Homo sapiens: one gene and its partner. The protein of the gene in region 2 interacts with the protein of the main gene of each other region in a pairwise test. Each region holds a gene or a part of one and is shown on either strand. Other genes may lie near its edges.

The links. The genes of interacting proteins can lie anywhere in the genome.
Region 1: the proteins of SMAD9 (region 2) and LEMD3 interact in binary tests that used the Homo sapiens proteins (3 or more experiments, as listed by UniProt).

The regions. Positions count from the first base shown.
Region 1 is NC_000012.12:65,242,575-65,248,882, reverse strand, and holds the end of LEMD3 (inner nuclear membrane protein Man1), read right to left. Parts: intron 5,496-6,308; coding exon 5,414-5,495; intron 3,215-5,413; coding exon 3,109-3,214; intron 3,023-3,108; coding exon 2,944-3,022; intron 2,722-2,943; coding exon 2,558-2,721; 3' UTR 528-2,557; downstream 1-527.
Region 2 is NC_000013.11:36,917,221-36,925,060, reverse strand, and holds the start of SMAD9 (mothers against decapentaplegic homolog 9), read left to right. Parts: upstream 1-4,822; 5' UTR 4,823-4,945; intron 4,946-5,024; exon of another isoform or gene 5,025-7,840. UniProt on the Homo sapiens protein: Transcriptional modulator activated by BMP (bone morphogenetic proteins) type 1 receptor kinase. SMAD9 is a receptor-regulated SMAD (R-SMAD).

The sequences.
Region 1 (6,308 bases), on a different chromosome or scaffold from region 2:
TCCTCTAGACTGTGACCATCTTGAGGATTCGGTCATGTGTTTTTCATCTTTGTATCCCTAACACATAACAGTACTTGGCATTTGTTAGTAATCAATAAGTGTACCACATGACTGACTAGTCTTCTTTTTACTTAACATATCAAAAAGTCTAAACCAATGCTATGTAAAGTAACTAGCCTATGAACTGTTAATAGTTTATAATGCAATAGAATTCAAGTCAGAATGTTAAAAGAAAAAGAAATGCTTCCTTTTTAAGAAAGTCTTGCTGTGAAAAAGTATCTAGCAGAACTAATGCTTTGTGATGTAGCTGATTGACATTCTTGCCCCATTTTGGTTCAAATACTTGAAAGTTGGATGAAGACATTTTCATAAGGAAAAATAAAATGCTGAGGGGAAGGATAGTTAAAATTAACTTTATGGTCTTCATTCATCTTTATAAGCACAAATATTCAGGCTGTCAAACATTTAAACTAAAGACACCTATTTTCACTGGTAAAAAAATAAATACAGACACAGGGCACTTAAAATGTTTTTAAAAAGCCAAGACACATAAAAAAAAACTAATAAATTTTTAATTAGAATTTTTTCCTTTTTTTAACAGGACAAGTAACAGATTACATCAAACTTCAGAACTTCTCAAATACCTAGTTATTATACACATTCCCATCTGTCTTGCAGGGAGGGATCTTGGTCGGCTTAACAGTTTCAGGTAAAATAAGCTGCATAATAGTATATATTACAATAATAAATGTACAATGTTTACATGAAATATGTTTTAGAAGCAAGAAAAAGATGCATCTGCATCAAAGGCGACCTTTTAAAATGCCACAACTATTTTTTACATTCACTCTTGCAACAGGTTACAAGATGGGGGTCACTAAGCTCAGATAAATCACTATGATGCACATAAAATACAGGAAGACTGGTTACTTTATATATTATATATATTTATATTTTCACACGTTAGCATCTGAGACATAAACTGAGAATTTAAAATTTATTCTCTTCAGATAACAAATCATTTTTTATTCTTCATAAACAAGGTGCCCACAAAAGCACACAGGTAAGGCACAATAGGGCTTTCTGTTACAGAATAGTGTGCATCATGTTTACTTAACCAGAAAACGTGCATTATCTGTGCAAGTTCATGCTGCAAACCCAACGCATACAATAAAACAAAAAGGAAACTGAGCTTTAAATACAACCAAAATTTGTACAATTCCAGCTGTTTCACATATTCATTTGGACTGACAATTATATATCAACAGGTTATTTTTAAAAAGCCAATTGTAGATTACAAGTAAAATTTACTCAGCAACTATTTTTATCTGAAATCATAAACAGTAATAAAGTAAGTTTACTGAAACAAATTAAATACTGAGGCACAAAGCAACAGTCAATCGTGCATTTACTATATTGCAAACTTTCATGACCCAAAATTGCAAGTATAATTTGTCAAATACACATTTTGCTGCAACAATGTGCCCTGCTTTAAACTTGACATATAACAGAGGCACTAACATATCATTAAATTATAAATAGATTGGGAAAATGACTTAACCCCAATGGTACTATGTCATGGCCCTAGTATTTATAATAAATACAGCTTTTCACAAAATATTTTTCCAATATCTGCCAATTTCTTCTTTATTGCTCACATAAATTTGACTCTATTACAACTGGTATCAGAACTTTCACACAAAATCATACTCAGACATTTTTATATAAAACCTATAAAAGATATTTTAAACTTGTATCTAATACTTCCAGGTGTTTGGCTGTTTGATCTATGCAAAAGTACAGCCATATGTATATATCTCTGTGTGTGTATATATATACATCTATATATACACACACATACACACATACATATATACACACACATTAGATTATGAATAAAATGGAAAGCTTATTTTACTGCTTTAATGCAGACATCCTCATAAAACAAGACTACTTTCACCACCACCAGCATTTATACATATATACAAAGCCAGTTTAAGTACATATACATCCACTTACACATATTTGTAACCACTAAGCCCAAATTAATTTTCCCATATTCCAGCCGTAGCAAATGAATCGCTTATAAGCAACAGAAACCTAAGGTTAAATTGGGAAATCAACAGTTTTACCACATTAGCCTGTAGGAACTATGCAGGTGACTGTATACAAAAATTCACAACATTAGTTCACAAGAAATTATGGGACTACAAGAAGCCTTTTCATCATGCTTTTGTGTGGTTATCCAAACACTTCTTGGGGCAAAAATACAACCACCACATCTGAAAATGCTTAATAAAGTCAGTGTTCCTCATGCAAAACTTTAAATGTATTGGCTTAACTGAGCTCCAAAAACTGAATGAAATAATTATCCTACCTACTCAGCATTGCTGCCTCACTGCTAAATCCCTTTGGAACCTTAAGACTTCTGGAACGTTCAGAGATGTATTCATCAATAAAAATATTACATACAAAAAGCATTTAAAAAGGAAGACAAAAAGCCAAACAGGAATTTTCCTATTGTAAATAACAGTCTTAGAAATGGAAGAAAATCTTTTCAGGAACTTCCTTGAGAATTGGTTAGGCCAGTCCGAAGACGAAGATGAGACATGGAGTTCATATGTTTATTTGATGGCTTCAATGGAGTGTTGGAAGTGAGAGCCTGGGGAAAGCGATGGTGGTATCTATCTAGTCGTAAATATTTTACTGTAACCAATTTCCCTGTTGTAAGATAAAAATAATATTTTAGATCAGTAAAACTGTTTAATATTTGCAGAAAATTAACTGTGGTAAAAGACATATGAGCACAAAACATAAATAAAGTCATCTAAAATTATTACTCAAAAAAATGCTAACCTAAATTCTTTTATTTGAAATCTGGTATAGTTTAAAATTAAACTATAACTATCTTTTCAAAATGTTTGTAGTACTCAAATTTCTTACCATCAAACCAAGAGCCATGCAATGCTTTAAAAGCCTTTCCAGCATATTCTGGAGACAGACATTTAACATATACACAACCCTGTGATATTAAAAAAGAAAGAAAATAGTCTTAGTTTAATAGCAACAAATCCAAAACATGAAATTCAATACCAAAAGTTACTTTACCTCACGTGAATTTTTGTCTACTGCAATGTGAACAATGCCATCATTATCACTGCATTTTTCTAAAATTGCTTCTTGAATTGCCAAATGCCACTGATCCCCTATTTCCCTAAAAGTTAATGAAAACAAAAATCAACAACCATATTCCTACTCGGTAAAAATTCTTCACTGTCTCTTACAACATATATATATTACTAGAATTGGTATAGTTTTAAAACCACATACGATTTTAATTGGTATTAAGTAAATGCTTGTTGACTAACAGGAGGTAGATTTAAAAATTACAATTCAGAAGTCTCAGCCCTCCTCCCACTTTCCAGTAAAAGAGTGCAGAGCGCTGGCCAGGCGCGGTGGCTCATGCCTGTAATCCCAGCACTTTGAGAGGCCGAGGCAGGCGGATCATGAGGTCAGGAGATCGAGACCATCCTGACTAACACGGTGAAACCCCGTCTCTACTAAAAATACAAAAAAAAAAAAAAATTAGCCAGGCGTGGTGGCAGGTGTCTGTAGTCCCAGCTACTCGGGAGGCTGAGGCAGGAGAATGGCGTGAACCTGGGAGGCAGAGCTTGCAGTGAGCCGAGATCACGCCACTGCACTCAACCCTGGGCAACAGAGTGAGACTCCGTCTCAAAAAAAAAAAAAAAAGAGTGCAGAGAGCTGAGGCAATGAAAGACTAGCCCACCGCTGCAGAATAAATGGATTGGGTCATTCCTATGTTTAAAAATCCTGTGTACTTACAGTAATTTCTGTTTTCTTTCTATTGTTAATAAGTACTTTAAATGAGTTGTGAACTTATTAAAGTTGTAAAAGTTAAATGTTAGTTATTTGAGACAGGGTCTCGCTTTGTCACCCAGGCTGGAGTGCAGTGGCGTGATCTCGGCTCACTGCAATATGTGCCTCCCAGGCTCAAACCATTCTCCCACCTCAGCCTCCCAGATAGCTGGGACTACAGGCACACACCACCAATTCTGGCTAATTTCTTTTGTATTTTTTGTAGAGACGGGGTTTTGCCACATTGCCCAGGCTGGTCTCGAACTCCTGAGTTCAAGTGATCCACCCACCTCGGCTTCCCAAAGCACTGGGATTATAGGTGTGAGCCACTGTGCCCAGCCGAATGTTATTTTCTTTAATTGTAATGATAGGTTCAAATTCCTAAAGAAAATTCTTAGTAAATACTACATTTGAGCTTCTCTTTTCCAAAATAATTGATACAGGACTAACATTTTGTACAGTCACCTTACTATAATGACAGTTTTAAGGTGTTTCTGCTGTAGTAAGGGACATTTGTCTTGCTTGTGAGACAAAGATGGCAGGAGAGAGAGGAAAGTGACTTCACTTCAAATCACAAATTTTCATCTTAGGTAATAAAATAGTGGACTTGCCAATTCCTAAGGCATGAGGTAAGATTCCCAACAGAGGTATCATCACACTACTAATTGTTTCTATCTCTGCAAAATAGAGGCGGTGTTTGTCTCTGTGTGTGTGGGGGGGGTGTGTGTGTGTGTGTGTGCGCGTGCCCACGTGCAAACACGTGTGCATACTGCTTCCTCACATTTCCAATTTTGCTGTCACTTATTTGGAATTTCATCAATGAGTGATTAGATGAGACTTTGGGGGTATTGTATACATATTGTAATTGCCACTGTTGGGACTTTTAAAACAAACAGAATTTGATCTGTACTATCACTGGATAGATAAGCAGTGCCCTCAGGAAGCTAATTCTAAGAACTATTACAGCTTATATATGAAATACTGTGAATTCTAAGGCAGTCACTTTTGACTGTGCTATTCTCTGGAAGCATATGTTGTTGGAATTATAAAGTCTGAAAAGTTCTTCAAATATTATATTGACAAGTGGAGACAGGACTTTGTAGAGAAGCAGGTATATACATCTTTGTAGGAAACTTTTTACAATTTGAGATTTGAAATTTGTAAGCAGCAGTGATTGTATCTATATTTTCTACTGAGGCAAAAATATTGACAGTCATGTATAATGACTTACACATTTAATAAAGGGTACTCTTTGTCATTGTGAGTCATTAATTTGCCTCAAGCATTTATCTATCTGCTATGACGATTCATAAGGAATACAAAGATTTATAAAAGTTTTACAAATCTTTATACATTAGTGTCCTTTGGCCAAATCTTTGCTTGGAATTTAATGAAAGAGAAAAACATAACATTTCTGTGGTAGAGATTCAGAAGAAAAACATTTTCAATTACAGACACACCATTATAAGAATATCATGCATTTTCCAGCCAAATATTCAGAATAAGAGTTACATGTACCCCTGATCATAATACTTACATAACGGGATCAAACATATTCCGAATCTTTAGACACGGTGTCAAACTATTTGGTGGTGAATTTCTTCTATCTAAATGAAATGCTACAAAAAACAAGTTAGTTTTACTATTTGACATTGTTCTAGTTTGTTGAAAGGTATTCAATCATTCAGTTCATTCAAAAAATATTCACTGCATGCTTTTACTAGGAGCCAGACCCCTGGTTAGATGTTAAGGTGAGTAAGACAGTCATTGCTATCAAAGAGTTTACAGTTTAATGGGAGAGACAGATGATAAAGAGTGTCATGTAAGAAAGTACAACTGTGATTAAGTCCTTAAAAAAAAAAGTACAAAAAGCTTTTTAAAAGTAACTTAACCTCATATGAGAAAATAAAACTTCCCTGAAAAAGTGAAATTTATGTGGGAACTGAAGAATAAAAATTAGCAGGGTGAAGAGAGGTGTGTAAAGGAAGATTTCAAGCAGAGGTGATTGCTTGTACACAGCTCCTGGGGCACGAAGGAGCAAATGTGGCTGGAGTAGAAAGAATAGAGATAAACCTACAGAAGATGTCAGATTATTTAAGATGATGTAGGCTACAAAAAAGTATTTGGGCATTATGGTAAGAGTAATAGCCACTCAACTGTTTTAAGGAGTAGAATAGGATGAGATCTGTCTTTTAAAACTACATATTTTAAAAATACATTGTTATGTGGAGACTCAGGTAAAAGCAGAAGTGAATGCAAGATGACCAGTTAGAAGGTTATTATTATATTATAGTTGTCTAAGAAGGAGAGGATAATGATGTGGGTAAGACAGGCCAACAGTGCAAGTGACAAGCGGATAGAATCAGGACATATTATGGAGTAGATATGACATGACCTGTTGAAAGGTTGGACAAAGAGGGATAAAGGAGAGA
Region 2 (7,840 bases):
CTTTTATCTTTTTTCCCCAAAGCATAGTTTCCTGCTTCATAGTACTTATTAACCAATTTCTTCTAAAGGTAGCATTTCCTCCCGTCTTCGGTCCTTGATTCCTCCAGTTTTTTTTTTTTGCCAAAGTTTATTGATTATCTCTTCAAAGTGTCCATAAATACATCTCCTCCTCACTTTTCTAGAATCCCACAGACGCCCATCACCTCATGCCTAGAATGTTGCAATGGCTTCCTAATTGGTCTCCTTACCTCTTCTCTCTACAAACTTTTCTCCCTCAGCCCCTTCCACCTTCTAGCCTGTGTAGATTATTCTTCCTGGGATGTCACTGCCCATGTTCATCACTTTTCAACTCCACTTCAAGTTCCAGGACAACAATGAGGTGTAAAAACCTGGGCGTTGGAGAAAGGCAGCCTGGAGGGGATAGTCTGTGTGTCCCTCAGGTTCCTCAACGTAAAATGCAGATGATAATTCTCCCGTGAGAGGTCATGAGAGGGAAATGAGAGGAGGTGTGGGAAGCGCCAGTCCAGTTCCCGGTTGGGGGACTCTCACAATGGAGGCAGCATCTGATCCTCACTGCTGAGTCAAGATGGTCCATTGCTCTCTTGTCTCAATCCTTTAGAATGTATTTGGTGATGAACTGCTGTGTTAACATTGTTTTTCTTATCTATCCAACTAGTTTGACAATTCTCTTAGGAAAACTGAGGCTTTTCTACTCAAAGCCTCAGGGAATTCTGCACATAGTAGGCATTCTGCCTTCATGATTGAACAAGTTGGGCCTGCATTAGAGTGTCAGGCCAGGGTGGCAAGTGGGCTGAAGTGCAGCCTGCACTCTGCTGTGAGGCTGACACCTGCAGGGCTGCACCCACTCAGGCAGGGTGGAGGCCCAGGGGGGTGCAGGACAGTAAGTGTTCATGCTCTCAAGTTGGAGCTAAAATTTCGACCCTGTGAAGACCTCCCTGACACCTCCCTGTGCCCACTCCCCTACGGTGACACACAAAGTTGTGTGATAATCGTTGGTAGATGTATCTCTCTCTTAGGCTGCCTTTACTAAGGGCCAGTGCTCTGTGTTCATATAGTTAATTCGGGTGCCTGGTACTTAGGAAAGCATTCAATAGTGATTATGGAATGAAAGATGACTTTCAAGGAAAGTCCGAATGGGAGGCAGAAAAACTGCAGCATCAGGACAGAGTTACAGATAAAATTTAGAAAGGAGACTTGAGGTGGGAGGAGTGTGGAGGCTATGATTCCTAGTTATTACTCTGAGTGGAACCATTATCATGCTAGCTCAAACTTAAGGTACAAGAGACGTACAAAGCAGAATCTTTGCATCCATGGATGACTACAGACTTTGTTACAATCTGTTATTTTTTTATTTTTTAATACTATTTTATGTATACTCACATGAAAAAATGGTTATACTATCATGTTTACATAATACTAATATTGGAAACAGAATTCAGTAACCAATTACATTTAAATTTTATAAAGAACACACAAACATTAAAACACTGATTAGTTATAGAAAGCAGAGTTTGAGGAAAAACCATTAGCTATAATTTTTATTTTCATTAAAGAGCAGCACCCTCTGAGAAGAATCAAACCAATCAGTAATATTCATCTATATCATAAAGTAATAAGTACAAAGGAAAGCTAGTGACTGTACTGATTTTATTGCTTTTACTAAGCCATTTTATGTTCCTCACACTCAATGAGAAGAAATAAAACATAATCTGAAGAAAAATATCTCATTATTATTCGCAATAAAAAATCTGCTTCATTCTGCAGGCCTGGGCAGATTGTACAATAGAGAGCACTTAATGGCTCAAATGGATCAATGTACCAGTTTGATTCTGATCCACGGAATAGAATCTCATCCATATTTGGTGGCTGGACTAACTCCATGGGTGCTGTGACAGACTGAACTATTTTTGTGGTATCCCCAGATCTCACTAAATAAGAAAAGACCCTACACCAGAAAATATAACAATCAATCCGTCCATAAATTTTATCTATATGCTTGCTCTTCAGTATAAGTTGGAAAAAGAGGCCCTTTCTTGAGGACATGGATAAAAGTATTATGGTCTAAAGATTGCTGGATCGATATTGTGTTGTTATAATAAAGATAAGGTACACATTGAAACCACTGTCTGATTAAGAAACTTCCACAACTTGTCTCAATTCTTCAAATAATGGAGTAAGTTTCTTTTCTAGGCTGACAATTAGTTCTGTATTGGCATTGCTGCTGGCTATGAAACTCACCACCAAAGGTAAATGATTTAACTGAATCACCAGGTAGGTGTAACAGTAACAGATGATACTTTTATTTTTTGAAAGTCCAAGTTTGCTCCCGTGGTCTGTTGCAAGGGCAAAAGTAGGTAAGAAACCAGGTCTCAAAGCATGCTCTGGAGCATTATCAATGGCCACTTTAATAACAGGTACTCCAACTCTGACACAACAATAGCATGGAGCCCTTCAACACTTTGTAACATTTGATACATGAATCGCTTTAGGTCATCCGCCATGATGAACCCCCTTCTCTTGCAGGATCAATCTCCTTGCCTGGGGTTTCTGGGCTGCCCGGTTCTCTCCACTGTCACTTCAGGAACAGCTTCAAAGACCACAGTCTGGTTTTATGCTGGGTATATGGCAAATGCAAAGAATTGGCTCTCTCTTGGGGTAAGGAAGCTGCCCTTCCTACCACTGTTTTATAGCCTGAGGGAGTTCGTGTTAGGCCAAGACCTTATCATCTTTCAGAAAACAGATTTCAGTTTTGCCGTGGTTTTGAGGTCCTGAACCAAAATTTCACTGGCGGTTCTACCAAATCACAACCTCTGAGTCTCTCCTTTCATATGATTCCCATAACAGAATGTTTTGGTGGAAGTTCTATTAAGCAGTAAAACCACAGCCAATCAAGAAATCACTGGGAAAGATAAAGCGAAGTCTAGCTTTCCATTAACCAGGACAGTCAGCTTCTGTAAAATGGAGTGTCAACACTGCGCCTTCTGTCTTAGGCCAAGCATTTTCTCCTTCTTGGAACTCACCAGATCTTATTGTTCTTGAGCGTAATGGATTAACTTTCTATACTAGCCTTGAGGAATACATGATAGGAATTATATCAGTGACAGACTAATGTTTAGGCAGGAAAAAGTCATCATCGTGCAGAAATATCCTGGTATGTAAATGAGAACGTACAGAAAAGAGCAGACTAGACATACTCTAAATCAAAGGCCTGCCAAGAGTCAAGAGAATTCTGCGAACTGAGAAAGACTCCATGCCAGAAGCATGAGCCAGCGCTGCAGAGGTTATAATTTCTTTCTCTGCATCTTGTCCTCTGCATTATGCTCATATACGAGAAGGAAACTGAGATAGTGATTGGGCCATTTCTTTTCTTAATTTAATTTTTAAAAACTTGAGCCACAAGGTATCAATTCTGAGGACCTAATTAGTTTACTGGCAATAAAGTCCACATCCAGCCTAATCCTTAATATATAATCTGTAGCCCTTACCGGTCCCGCTGTTTCCTGGTGTTTCTCACCCAGGACAATCTCAAACCCAACACATAGCCGGGTGCAGAGGTATCTGGGCCAGTGTAGAAAGAAGACTTTGAGGTTAAGGCATGGTATTTAAGGTTCTGCTGCAAATGTTGTTTTAAACAAATCACCGTTCAACTACAACGGTATAATAATGCAAAAATAGCATCTGCCATGAAGAAAGTGCAGTGCTTTGAGAACTAGAAAAAGCAGTTAAATTTAAGGCCTTGCTTTACATTTCGGAGCCGCCATCGGGGCCAACTGGAGGTATGACTTTCCTGCACACAGGAGCAAGCTGAAAACTGCCCTGTGGCTTTATTCCACGTTCACCCCTGCAGCAAATGCCTTTTCTGTGAGGAACTACGGGCTGATGGGGAATCAGAGGTGGTTCTTCCTAAGTGGCGTTTCTGAGTGGGTTCCAGGAGTCCACAGTGACTTTAAGAGGCAGGCTACCTGGGGGACAGCCAGGCCGTGAGACGAGAAAGTTGTACAGTAACATTGCTGTGTGCCCATAAGTTTGTATCTTTTATTAGATTAGATAATATATCTCACATGCTGGGTTGTTAAGCAAATAAATATGTGTAAGGAAATTACAATCCACATAATTACATGAGTCGTTTTAACCACCACTCACCCCCAGAGTGATTAGATTTTCTTCTGCCTATGCCATTGCGGCCCAGTTGCTCTGTCACTGTCCATGGGGACAGGATCCCCTTACTCCGAAAAGCAAATCAGGAACAAACAGGGCAAGTGAGAGTCACTATCAGGGCCCAGAAACATGTGAGGAACAGCAGCTCAGAAGGGTCTCCAGACTGATGGGCCGGTGATCCTATATTCTTGTTGGGCTGACAACTCTTCTGGTTTCGGGCTCCAGGTGCTGGCAAGAAATCTCAGAGGTGGGGTGGGAGAGAGAGACGCGAGGCGACCCACGCAGACAAAGGGCTCCCACCCCACCCCCGGGCCACCCCGGCAGGCCGGGCAGGGGCCGAGCCTGGGGTCGCGCAGGGGGACCGAGAGGGCAGCGCGGGGCTGGGGGTGGGGAAGAGGCGGGAACCGAGCCGCAGGCCGCTGCGAGGAGTACTACCCCGCCACCCCCGCGCCGCGAGTTTCCGCGCACGTGGCCGTGGGGCCGGTCTCGCTCCCGCCCCCCGCCGGGCCCGCGCAGCCCCCTCCTCTGCGGCTCCCGGAGCGGCCAGAGCGCGCGGCGGCGGGCGGGGGCGGGCCGCAAGCAGGGCTCCCTGGCCGCTTTCCAGGTCGGCGCACTAATACGGGCGATGAGGCTTCGCGGCTCCAGTCTGACTGACGCCGGCTGGGGCCGCCGCCGCCGCCGCCGCCGCCGCCGCTGCTGCAGCCGCTGTCTCGGTCCCCGCCGCCGCCGCCGGGCCCTGCAGGCGCTGGGCGCGCGCAGCCAGGCAGTGAGTGCGCGGCGCTCGGAGCGGGCGGCCGGGGGACCACGGCGGGGGCGGGGTTGGGGGCGCCGGACCTGGGTGGGGGAGGGATGAGTGGCACGGCGGGGACAGGTAAGACGTGCCCTCCTCGGCCGCGCGCTGCTTGTGTGCGTGCGTGTGAGCGCATTGAGTGGAGGGCGAAGTTGTTCGTCCTCGGGGCAGCCTGGGAGGCTCCTCGGCGTGAGGCTTGGCTTTTGGCGGTCGTTGTTCCCGGGTTTTTTGGTGGAGCCTGTCTGGGGTGGAGTGGGGTGGGGTGGGGTGGGCGCGGGGCCGGAGGGGACTGCTCTGGGGAGTTGGCCGCGGCGCAGCTCGCCTTCCTCGCGCCTGCATCCGCCCGCGCCGCGGGCCCCGGGACCTGTCAGGGGATGTTCGACCCGCGGCGGGGGCGGCGGTCGGGTCGGGGCTGGGGCCCGGGGCGTGGGCAGGGACCAGGATAGGCGCCTGAGGGGTCGCTTGCTGTAGCTGGAGATAGGGGACAGCGGACAGAGGGGGCGGCGGGGGTCGTCATTGTGACTCTTTGGGGGCCACTTTTAAACTCGCCAGCGCCGAATTGGCCTCACTTGCCTTCTGTTTCGTAGGCTTTTTGCTTTGTTTACCTTTGAGGCATGCGAACTGAGAAAAAAAGTTAGGAATGTTGTTGAAGTGTCTCCGGGCTCGCGCTTGGACTGTGTCGGAGCCGGGGTGTTTGTCTTTTCCTTGGCCCGCCCCTCGGTGCCAGCTCTCCGCAGAGGGGAGGGGGCGAGGTGGGAAGCAGATACAGGAGACTGCCTGACGCCAGCTTTGTGATCGGAAGGAGGAGCGCTGGGAGAACATTTTTATGGATGGCTAATCGCTGACAAGTTTTCCCGTTACTATTCCTTCCTCCTCCTGCCCTTGACCGTGGACATTTGAAGTGATAGTTTGGAAATACTACGTTGACTTATTTCTGGGCTGGAGTGGGTACTCCTGAGAACTAACCTACAAAGGATACAAATCGAGTTTGGAGATAAAATTGTATGTAAATTCTTTACCCAGTAGTTTACAGTGAGAAACACACCCACAGGGCACTGTGGAGTGCTTTGGATGGATCCAGTTTACTAGTACCATTTCGGTGGCTTGCCAGATTTCTCGGATGATCTTTTGGAAATGTAGGTTAGCAAGAAGCATGGAGGCTGACCGTTAAGTCGTGAGGCATTTAATAATGCTGCCTCCTAAGCAGTAACTGAGCGGAACGTTTGTGGCACCCGTCTGGGAAAGTGAAATGTGACTACTACAAGCATGTCTCCTGCCTTAGCATTCCTCCAAGTGTGAGGGAATGCCTTTGGATGTTTACATTTTAAAAATAGTGATCTATATTTAAGAAGGCATTTAAAATAAAAGCCAAAGACATTCTCAACTCCAAATAGACAAAGATTCAATATAAGAGTTTCCCTGTGCTTGTAGGAAAGCATCAGCACAATTTTAGACTGCTTTTAGGTTTGTGGTTATCCAAGAAGGAGGCTTCAGATAAGAAAAGGATGTGACGCTTTATAAATAAGGAGCATTTTAAATACAAGATGACAGCAATTTCAAGTACTGTATCCGAAAAACAACTTTTAGTGGTAATAGTCACCTTCAGTGATGGCAAGACAGCTGTCTGCCAGACAGCCTTCGGCCTCTTAATGTATTCTGACACAACCAACTCCCATTTTTATGCTTGACTGGTTATCTTTGTCAGAGCTGTTTTATGCTTGAGCTCTCTGGTTTCAAACTATGCTTAAGAGAATGCCAACATACTCTTGATCTGAACAAACTCATGTTTATCAGTGCAGTGTTTACTAAAAATCAAAGACGTAAACAAATTTTGGGTTAAACCTCTAAGTACTTTAGAATTGCCACATCATTGTCATCAGTCTTTCAAAGTCAACATGAACTATTTGGCTTTTCTCCTTTAAAAAATTTTTTTAACTTATATATTCCTAGTTAGTAAGTAATCAGAAAATATTCACAGATGTCAACTCTTGCATCTGTGATTGCCCAAGACATGGATGAGAAAGAAGAGTTTTGTTTTGTTTTTTAAATGAAACATTACTAAAGATATCCATAAGTAATAAACAAGTGGTACACTATCTTTACTAATCATGTGGTCAGTTGGAGGGAAAAAAGTCTGTCCAGAAATTGTTTCATAAAGATGAAAATATTCAATGTCAATATGAAAATACTCAATATGTTTTCCAAATAGTTTAATTCTGATTAATGAGAGTGCACTATGCATTGCCAAACTGGAGGGATGGTGTTTCGTAAGTGAGCACCGTAGGATTAAGGTAACTACTTTATATCTGACATTCCCTCTGTAATAAATAGGACAGCAGTTTCATCATGTTCTGCTTTAATATGTGGGAAATAATCCTTATCCACAGGATGTACTCTGATTTTAGGGAAGGTAAAGGTTATGACAAATATGTGGTTTTTCTGATTTGCCAGACATACTATGCTAAATTTTAAAGCTTTAACGAAGCTTAGTGCAGACTTTCTGTATATTGTTTTGGACACTTAGAGAGGAGTTAAAGAAACGGGAAACTGTCCAGAATGAAACAGTAAATATAGCAGTACGTTGAAACCATGAATCTTCTCAAATAGTTGTAATTCTAGGCTGTTGGATTTATATTTCCTTGGTTACTGTTGCTAGTGGGTTGAAAAGTTATTCTAAAGCAAAAAAAAAAAATGCAAACAGTAAATGCATAAGTACTTAACAATACTGTGAGCATTTTCACAATGTTTCATGTTATCCTGGTGAATGTCCATGTCCTAAGTAAGGACATTAAAAAAATAAACAATTATCCCTTGGTAATAAACTAACCTTTTAAAATAAATATTCCGGTAAATTTTGTCTCTTAAGAAACT